Regions from separate parts of the Homo sapiens genome. Here region 1 is linked to region 2. Evidence: fine-mapped expression QTL. A gene starts in region 2. The other region holds a variant in brackets. All regions are shown on one strand. Distances are between the middles of the regions. Region 1 overlaps CHMP4C (charged multivesicular body protein 4C). Region 2 holds the start of CHMP4C (charged multivesicular body protein 4C).

Region 1 (5,000 bases), 24 kb after region 2:
CAGAATCACCTGGAGAATAAATAAAGAGAACACAGATGCCCAGGCTACTTGAACTTGCAAAGTGTTTGGGTCCATGTGATTCCGATGCTAACCAATGTCTGAGAACCACTGACACAGAAGAATAGTCATGAGCATGGATTTGGGGGTCAAATTTTCTGGGCTATAATCCCAGGTCAACTGCTGACTATCCCTTGGGCAATTTATTATACTTTATTCAGTTTCCTTATATGTAAATTAGAGATTATAATAGTACTTACTTACCTCGTGGTTATTGTGAGATTCAATGAGATACTAGATATAATGCACTTAGTATAGTTCCTGGCACAAAGTGAGCACTCAATAATTAATATTCACAATTTGCTTTACATTCACACTGGGAAATATGTCTGGGACCGGATCCTTTCCTGATATTGGATGTGATAGTGGAACCTGGGGCAAGGATGCACAAGAGCAATGAGTGCCTAAGAGATGCAGACAAATTTCTGTAGAGTGGGAAAAGGTGAAAAAGGTGGTGGCTGGGGGCAGTGAAGACAACTTTGCTAACATTTTCTTTTCTGAATAATTCATTAACAATCAGCCTCCATTTTGACAGCTTCAGGTAGACATTAGATTCATTATCAGAGTCAAAATTCTCTATTGCTTTTGGATACAAAAATGTGTCACAAAATCAGCCTTTCCCTCCAGGCAGCTTGGCAGCATCATACCATTGTATTACATTTGAGAAAAATTTGTTCCCAGGCCCAAAGTTGAGCCATACATTTTTTCATATTCCTTTTAAAAATATATTTGTTTTATATTCAGTATAAATAGAATAATAAGGTTTAAAGATAAGGGATGGTCAGAGGGAGGTAAAAGTATTCTTTTTGATTATTGCATGAAAATATGTCAAAATAGCTCTTACAGAGTCAGGGAAACTCACAAAAAAATTACTTCCACTGGGAATCAAACTTTTGGTATTTAGGCTACTTAATAATGAGGGACATTGTCAGTTCTCTTATATCCAATCAGTTTGGCCTAGTTTCAGAGTTGGAGGAATTACTCAGAGATAAGCTACTATAGAAACATACCAGAACCTGGCATGTAGACACCGACATGCTTAGGCGGGTGTTTAGGAGCCAGTGAAGCTCAGGTGTTGGAAAATGTCTTCAAAGTGGCTGTCCATCCTGAGCAAGTAGCTACCTAGATTTATTTGCTGCAGTTGCTAATTCTTCTGAGGGCTGTATAGGTTTAATCCTGCTCTCTTTAGTAACCTCTCAGGGCATCACCGCTATGCAAAAACCCTTGGGGAGCCAGGATTTCAGAGCTGCTAAGTGTTACAAAAAATAGATCTCTAGACCCAGTGTTTAGCTTCAACAAAGGGCCGCTGTCAGATAGGGGCTCCTAAAAGCTGCCAAAGCTCATCTAGTTACAGTGGTCCTGGTGGTCTGTGGTAGTGTTTCCTGCAGAGTTGATACACAGCAGCATGTATTTAAATTTGTCATATGCCCTATCAGACAAAATTTCAAAATGGGTTTACAAATAGTGATAGTTATAAAATACTTTTATTTTTAGTGAGTTCCAAATGTAATAGGTATTTACTTAATGTTTATAATATATGGATTATTAAGTTTTTAAAATATAAGTTATCTTTAAAGTTTATAAATATCATCAGGAATATTTATCCTACTCAAATAACTAAGAATTTATATTAAATGAACTGACTTTTTATATAGGATTATATCTAAATTCATAATTATAAGTTAAAATTCTAAAATGTTCAACAAAATATGATTTCCCAGGGATCTGAACAAAATAGATGATTTGATGCAAGAGATCACAGAGCAACAGGATATCGCCCAAGAAATCTCAGAAGCATTTTCTCAACGGGTTGGCTTTGGTGATGACTTTGATGAGGTACGTAACCCAATATGAAGAATGCAGGATTGTGGCTGCTATAAAGAGTAGCTTCCTGTCATATATAGTAGGCATGTTCCCTTACTACTGAAAGAACAAGTGATATTTGTAAGAAAGGTACTTCTCTTAAGAGAAAAATAAAGTGTTAGTACCTCTGATTTAAAGGAAAGATGAATACAGTTTGGCAAACAGTGGCCTGATTAAGTTTTCAGCTATTAAGGAAAGAACAGCATGTGATTGTGTAAAGTTAGTGACTTTTAGTGGTTGAAGCCTAAACAGCCCCATTACGAGGAACTGAGTGCTTGCACATCTGGGCAAAACAAAGTAGACTTCGTCATTCTGCATGAAACAGACGTATCATGCTCTGTAGCTGTTAAATTAGAGGTTAGGCTGCCTCTGTTTATTACTCAGGCTATGAAACCAAATAAATGTGGAGTGGCATTATTAACACACACATTCCATTTAGATTAATCAGTCCAATAATACAGACAGACTATAATTATAATGGTGATGTCTGCACTGTGAATTTCAATTGTTCTGCTCAAAGCACACACAAGTAGGACTAGTACACATTTAGAAACATTTCCAAAGCTTGGATTAGCATGGCAAAGAATCCAACTTCCTGCATCTATGTGATATTAAAAATAACACATTTAGCAAGTAAGACCTGGTTCCATGGAATCCCCAAAAATGAGAATGGGGTATCAATACCTTTTAAAAATGGTGTAGACAAGGGGTCAGCAAAAATATGGCTTGCAGGCCAAATTCTTCCCGTGACCTGTTTGTATATCCCAAAAGCTCAGGATGGGTTTCACAATTTTAATGTTGTAGAAAACAATAACAACAAAGGAGACTATGGGGCAGAAGAAAACATGCAGCCTGCAAATCCTGCAATATTACTATTTGGGCCTTTACAGAGAAAGTTTTTCAACTCCTGATGTAGACTAGTAAGCATCTAGTGAGTACATTATGATATGGTGGAAAGGAATCTGGGCTTATGTGGACATCTGGGCTCTATCATTTGTTAAAAACTTTGTGTAA[G/A]TCTCTTTTACTTTTCTGACTGTTAGTTTTCTTATCTGTGATAATGAAGATTTTTGGATCCCTGGATTATCTCCAAAACATCTTAAGTTCCAAAATTCTATTCTCAATGGTCAAATTAGTGTTTGGTACCTAAAGGATGAAAATGATGGAGGAGATGATTACTCTGTTGTTACCATATTGCTAAAGAAAACATTAATATGTTTCTGCTGCTGTTGATAACGATGATGCACTATTGGCAATTGTGGGCATACATTCGGCATAGGATAGCTTGTTCTGCCATTACTATATTTATGGTATTTGTCCCTGATTGTTTTGTGAGCAGAAATAGGACGCCAGGGTATTCATTCTGTTCCATTTTAGTCATATAGCCTGTGGAGATCCATCAAGTACACAACTATATTGACTGTGCTATTTCATACGGCCCAATGCTATACACCTTCATATTTTCTTCCCTTTTTATGAGGCGAATTTAATAGAGGTCAGACAATCTTTAGCTTGCTGCAATTCTGATACCCACTGACTTAATCAAATGTTGTGGTTGGCTTAAATATCTTCTCTCTTTCCCCACAGTGTTATTACTCTCACTTTAATATTGGATAATTATTTGTTTATGTGCCTTCCCCCCACATTTGAGTGTAAGCTCCTTGAATATAGGGAGTGTTGATTCAACTTTGCATCCCAGCACTGAGTTCAAAATCTGCCCAGGAGTGAGTGCTCAATGAATTTGTTGAATAATGAATGAATGAATTCTCTCATTCGTTATTCATCCATGAAAGAAAAATCTACTTGGTTGAATATAAGGTGTCCCAAGTCATTTCTAATAGTGACAACCTCATAATTCCATCAATGACAAGTTCAGTTGTGACTCCCAAATTCTCTCTGAGAGGGGTTGGACTCTACTTCAGGACTTATGGAGCCAGTGAGATCTGAACTATCTGAGTCATCTCAGAATTGGCATAAGGTGACTTACATTTTTAAGGTCTCAAACTAGCCTTGTCTCTCAAAAGTTTTTGGGACAGAGAGTAGTTTAAGATTAAACCAGGCTCTCTCGGACTATTGCTAAAAGAAGGAAATACAGTATACCTATCTTGAATTGAACTTTTCTTAACCCAAATGCACAGCATAATTTATATTGGCTTTGGTGATTTGATAAAAGAACCATAGTATCTTTAATTCCTTTTACTTTCTGTACGTTATGGTTTTGCTATACCTGTTGTTTTATTTTCAATCGCATTAGCCCAAAGAAAAACATTTATTTCCACCAGTTAACATTTTGTGGATTCTAAACAGTAGAAAAGAACACATTGGAAAGATGACAGACAAGGTGTAAGTTTCCCAGAAACTGTGGGGAGGTTATATATTCAGCTAGCACAAATTACTTGAATGGCTGTTTACTGAAGTATTAGAAGATTAACTACAACAAATTTGCACAACCCAGAATATTCATTTTTTAATCATTGCTCAGTGTTGCAAAAAAGACTTAGTTTTAAAATAAATATTCCATTTCACTGGGTTCTCACATATCAATTGGGTAGCAGATGTTCTTGTTATTGTGTTTGAGGAAACCCATGTCTTGAAACGTTAACTCCATAATTCTTCCTTTCTCCTGTGTTCAGGATGAGTTGATGGCAGAACTTGAAGAATTGGAACAGGAGGAATTAAATAAGAAGATGACAAATATCCGCCTTCCAAATGTGCCTTCCTCTTCTCTCCCAGCACAGCCAAATAGAAAACCAGGCATGTCGTCCACTGCACGTCGATCCCGAGCAGGTCTGTTACCCAGCTCAACTACATGTGGTCAGATAGTTGCCTAAAATGATAGCCAGGCCCATTCTTTTTAGCACATGTTTTTGATTTCAAACTGAACACATTTTTATATGTAATTCATACCTGTTTTCTATGCTGAAAGTGTGAATGTCACCAATTACTAATTTTTATCTATTTTATGTTCCAGCATCTTCCCAGAGGGCAGAAGAAGAGGATGATGATATCAAACAATTGGCAGCTTGGGCTACCTAAACTAAAACACATTTTTGATACCTAAATTAATGAGCTATAGATAAAAT
Region 2 (5,506 bases):
CAAGATCATTCTTTTGAACAACAGCCTCTTATTAGCTGAGATCAATTGAGATCAGAAAATGAAAAATACACTAGATGCTAAGAACTCTTTGTGAAACCACATTTGTAGGATGAGAACTGAATGAAGATTAATGTGTTATTTTTGGCTTCTAAATCAGTGATTTAAAAACTTATTTTCTACATCCTGCTGCTGGATTAAACACTAATATATATTTGGTTGGTTTACTTGCTTGCAAGTATTATCTTTTCCTCTTTGAGCTTATGTATTAATGGAAGGAAATGATTTTTAATTTAAATGTATCTTGCTTTGCACACCACATGTGTTTCTGAAAGAGCTACACATTAAATTGGTTAAATTGATTATTTTTTCCTATGGAATTACAAATTAATGACTAGCTTCTTTGTTTTAATGTCTGATTGATTTTCATTTGCTTTTTCAATAAAATGCGGATCCTTAGCACATCATGTGGACCTTATGTAATCTGGACTCTGTCTACCTTTGTAGGGACCTCACCACACTCTCCTACTCTCCTCTTCTGTCTCCAAGCGCCAGCGACAGTGACCTTTTCTCAACCCCTAGTACTTCAAACTCAAGATTTTTGCACATATTGTTTAAAATTTTAATTCTCCAACATTCTTTGCCTTGTTTTTTAAAATATAGTACACATAGTACATTGCTATCTTAATTGTCCATCTTCCCTTAGCTAGAAAGTAGGCTCCAAAAATGAATGTATTTTTGTCTTTTTATTCACTGCTGAATCTCTACATCTAAAAGTGATGAATAAATGAATAAATAAATTGGTAAATGAATAAGGAATTCCTTATAATGGAATACAAATTTCCCTTCCCTAAAACCAGGTAGCTTCTATTCATCATTCAAATTCTAGCTTAAATATCACTTTTTCAGGCCACTCTGACCCCAAGACAAGGTCAAGTTCCTCTACTATTTATTCTTATAGATCCTGTACTTCTCTATATAATTTATTAGAACCCCAACTTATGAAGTTTATTGTTTGTGAGATAATTTGCTTAATTTCTGTGTTCTCCCCTAAGCTGTAAGCTCTGTTGGAACAGACAATGTTTCTTACTCTTACCTGTATCCCCAACACTAGCACAATGCCTGGATCATAGAGACACCTAATAAGCATCAGTTGAATGAAACCATGGATGTGTGGATTAGGCAATTCCTCAGTTATAACTTTGTCTCTCTGTTCTACTGTCCAATGTTCTCACAACAAAAAAAGTAACTAACGAACCCCAAAGAATGCCTTAGTATTCTGGATAAGTTCTTATTTAAATGCACTCCTCCATGAATTCAATAATGCTTGGAGGATCCCTTAAAGATAATGCCTAATAATTACCTCTTCACCCCATGCTATTTAATTAAACAAATACTTAATGAGTTTTTCCTCTAGTCCAAGTTGCACAGAGGGAAATACCATCATGTAAATAGTGAAAAGACCATGCGTTTTCAAACAGAAAGATCTCTTTCACTTTTGCTGCCTGTTAAATTTGGTTAAGTTATCAACTGAGCCTTGGGTTCTTCTTCTGTCTAACAGAAACAGCAATACCTATTTTGCAGGGTTTATGTAAGGATTAGTGATAAGCATATATTTATTGATAAGCCTGACACATAGTCAGTGCTCAAAAGATGGTAGCTGTTATTACTGTCACTGGAAGGTAAGCTCTTAGAGGGCAGACTATACTTGCATTCCCTGTACCTTACACTCAATAAAGGCTAGTTAAACTGAAAAGCAACGGGAACAATAGCAGAATATGTGCTACTTCTCAACTCTCAAGGGCCTTAAAAATCTAATCAAGAAAATACACTCCAAAACTTATTCATGAAATATTTAGATAATAAAGAAAAACAATACTTACGACAACTTATACATGAAATTAGAGCAAAATGTGTGTTATAGACCATACATGCTTTACATGGCCAGCCAGGAAATGATAGGAGGTGGCTGGCTGCAGTTACTGTGAAATGATAAGTTCACATATTTGTGTGTTAGAAGATGCTTACTGTAAGCCTCCTATGGAAGTGTTCAATTTCTTTGGCAAAATTTTATGCTATCTATGCCAATGTTGGATAAATAGATTAACTTGCTGCTTTGTGTTTGTATGCTTGCAGACAAAATTGTGTTATTGATCTTGGGTATCAAGGTGAATTTGTCAGAGTAATGGGTGTTTTTTTTTTTTTTTTTTCTCTTAAACAGTGGCTGGCTAACAATCAAAAATAGGTTTTGGTAATGTTGGGTAACGTTGCTCAAATACGGCTATATTATGCAGAGCACATGGCAATCGTTGAAGAGTAAAACACAGATAATTCCACTTCTTTGTAGTGTGCTTGACACAGGTTTGCAGCAGTATTGCATCATCTATAAGCATTACATATGGCTGTCCTTTCATCTTACTAAATTATTTGCCAGCAGATCTAATAGATGGGCTGAGATAGTGAGCATGAACAAAAGAATGTTTCTCTTCTCCAGGATATTCTCTACTTTTTGTTACTTAAGTATCTATGTAATAGCATTTGACATACAGCCAAACACCAGGGCAGCCCCATTTAAGGTTTTTGATACACTGAGGATCATTCAGAAAACTTCGGATTCCTAGTTATAGAGTTGAATCCAACCACCAACACACTCCAGAAGTCCTGACATTAGGAAAAGAGATGGCCACCATCTTTCACCCACTTCAAGTCCTGTAAGGATGATCTAGAATCTACACTGTGCCAACTAGCATCCAGGCACACATCAACCTGCCCGGACTACCAAATGCAGAAACAAGCCCAGTAGCAGCAGCTGCTCCGAGCTTGCCCACACACCTGCATCCTAGTGGCAGACAAATATCCTGGAAGCCTTTGTGTCCACACACTCATACCTACATGACATACACTTAGAGGAAAAGATCTGAATATTCTTATTCACAAGAACAGAGGCCTGAATACAGGAACACTATGCTCACGTACACACAAAAGACACGCATGGAATAAAGCATTTTGCATATCCAGTCTTGCGCACTTACACTTTCAGGTCCTGCACAAGACCCCTGGACATCGGTTTGCTTTTCTTTGAGCCATTCACAAACTAGTTCCTCGTTCCTGGGACCGTCCCTAGTGTGGATAAAAGCCAACTTCCCACAGTCTTTGTCGGTCTTTTCAACTTTTCTCTGCTCTCGCTCAACTCCCAGAGGGCCGGGTGGCGCCGGCCAGCCGACGTCCCAGCGGTGGCCTCCCCGCCCAGCCGCTGTGCAGCGGGGCGGGGCCGAACTGGCAGCCAGGAAATGCCCTGGAGTGTGTGTCACCTGTCCAGGACGACTTGTTGATTCCCAGGAGGGCCGCCTTTCCGGTCTGGGTCCCCGAGAGGACTGCCTTGCTCACCTGTCCCCTCGGCGCGGCCCCGGGGAGCTCCCGAGAGGCCCCCGGGATCGCTGGCCCTCCGAACTCCACAGCAATGAGCAAGTTGGGCAAGTTCTTTAAAGGGGGCGGCTCTTCTAAGAGCCGAGCCGCTCCCAGTCCCCAGGAGGCCCTGGTCCGACTTCGGGAGACTGAGGAGATGCTGGGCAAGAAACAAGAGTACCTGGAAAATCGAATCCAGAGAGAAATCGCCCTGGCCAAGAAGCACGGCACGCAGAATAAGCGAGGTAGGCTGGGGTCTGGCCCACAGGCGGGAGCCCATCTGCCTCTAGCCTTTCCCTTGGGGACAATCGGCCCACACCACTGAGGTCCCCAGGTGGCCAGGTTTGCTCCTGCAGTCTTTTCTAGGAACTGGTACTGACTCTTAGGGCACTGACTAGGGTGAGTTGAGCTAGACACTGGCACTGATGGCAAAATGTAAGGGGCCGCCAAAAATCTCAGTAATCAAGATGAACAATACTTTAATGCAATACCTAAAGGACTCAGAACCAATGCCAAAAAAGAAATGATGAAGAAAATATCAAAATTTTAAATAAAGACAAGATTGGTATTGATTTTTTTCATTTGCCTCTAGCTCTTATGTTGTTATGTGCAGCACATCTTTATTTAAAATTATTTTTTATAATGTGATGATTTGTTCATCGTGGATTTTTTAATATTAATTTTGAATTTTAAAAATATTGCATTAAAATATTATTTGTCTTGATTACTGAGTGTTTTCGCACCCCTGTAAATTTTGCTCCTGGTCCAGCTTTTTCTAGGCCAGCCTTGCTGACTCCAACACTAACCATGAAGTTTTCTGCTGTATGTTTGTATATTAAATTACACATTTTAACTTGCACGTAAATCTTCAGAAAAGGATATTCTAGTACGTTGTGGTCTACCTTGCTCCTCAGCTGTGGAAAGCTTTAGCTGGATGTTCGGCAGTTGAAGTCTTAAAAAAAAAAAAGGTAGAGGAATTAATTATTAAATTTCCTATCACTGACTTTTGGCACACACAAGAGACTTTGAGTCAGTAATGATTCTTGGTGTTCCTGTTGCACCTTGAACACCTGTTCTTTGCCAGAGTTAACTGATTTCTTCAGTATACTGCTCCTTCTATTGGAATACCTCTAAACAGCACCTGTGGCACAGATAAAAACTCAGTGAGAAGTTGAAGTGATTTGCTCTTGTAACACCGGGTTCATGGCAGACCCAGAAAAGGAAGTGGCAATATCGGACTCTGCTTACCACCAAACCCAAACATTTGCACCCTCAAGTTGGGCTTCTTTAGTCATAATGAAGCCTTGGGAAGATTTGGCTCACTCTACAGGATGCTGCCATTGTTTAATGCAGGAAAGGAATGAAGTCTCAAGGAGATGAACTTGAGAACTCTGCCTCTTTCTGTAAAAGTGTGCCAGCTACATTTATGCCCACTTACCACCAACAATAAGAAGGCTGTTTTATTGCATATAACTTTTGTGCATATTATAGCCTGTTTTAGAGGTAAGTACTGATTTCTACTTTTACTTTGTGTCTGAAAATATTCTGGGAAGTTATGCAATGGCAATTTCTAAAGAAAGACCATGTCATTATGGCTTGCTAAAAATGTTGTTGGTCATTTTGCTCCTTGGCCCTTCCTCTTCAGTTTGATACACACTCTGACGTTTGCTTAGTGTCTGTCAAGGGTTTTCTTCCCTTTGCCATCTATTTGGATCTGTGTACAGCTTTGTCTACCATGGTTGCTCAGCAAATATTGGTGGTGGTTGTTGTTGTTTTGAGACAGAGTTTCACTCTTGTTGCCCAGGCTGGAGTGCAATGGCGCGATCTTGGCTCACCGCAACCTCTGCCGCCCAGGTTCAAGCGATTCTCCTGCCTCAGCCTCCCGAGTCGCTGGGATTACAGGCATGTGCCACCACACCCAGCTAATTTTATATTTTTAATAGAGACAGGGTTTCTCCATGTTGGTAAGACTGGTCTCGAACTCCTGACCTCAGGTGATCCACCTGCCTTGGCCTCCCAAAGGGCTAGGATTACAAGTGTGAGCCACCGCACCTGGCTGATGTTGGTTTTAAAAATCTAAAAAATTGACCATTTCCTTCTAGGA

The links. PIP is the estimated chance that this variant, and not a neighbour inherited with it, causes the effect.
Region 1: its variant is the best candidate, but not a certain one, in a credible set for the expression of CHMP4C in sun-exposed skin (GTEx, PIP 0.53).

What each region holds. Positions count from the first base shown.
Region 1 is chr8:81,753,592-81,758,591 of GRCh38, forward strand. CHMP4C (charged multivesicular body protein 4C) reads left to right here. Exons shown (of 5, transcript NM_152284.4): 3 at 1,779-1,893; 4 at 4,551-4,704; 5 at 4,889-5,000. The coding sequence ends at 4,953. Among named protein-coding and RNA genes, the nearest start is that of CHMP4C, 24 kb to the left of the region's middle. The variant G/A (reference allele first, on the strand shown) is at 2,935.
Region 2 is chr8:81,729,170-81,734,675 of GRCh38, forward strand. It overlaps CHMP4C (charged multivesicular body protein 4C), which reads left to right and starts at 3,279. Exons shown (of 5, transcript NM_152284.4): 1 at 3,279-3,647. The coding sequence starts at 3,458.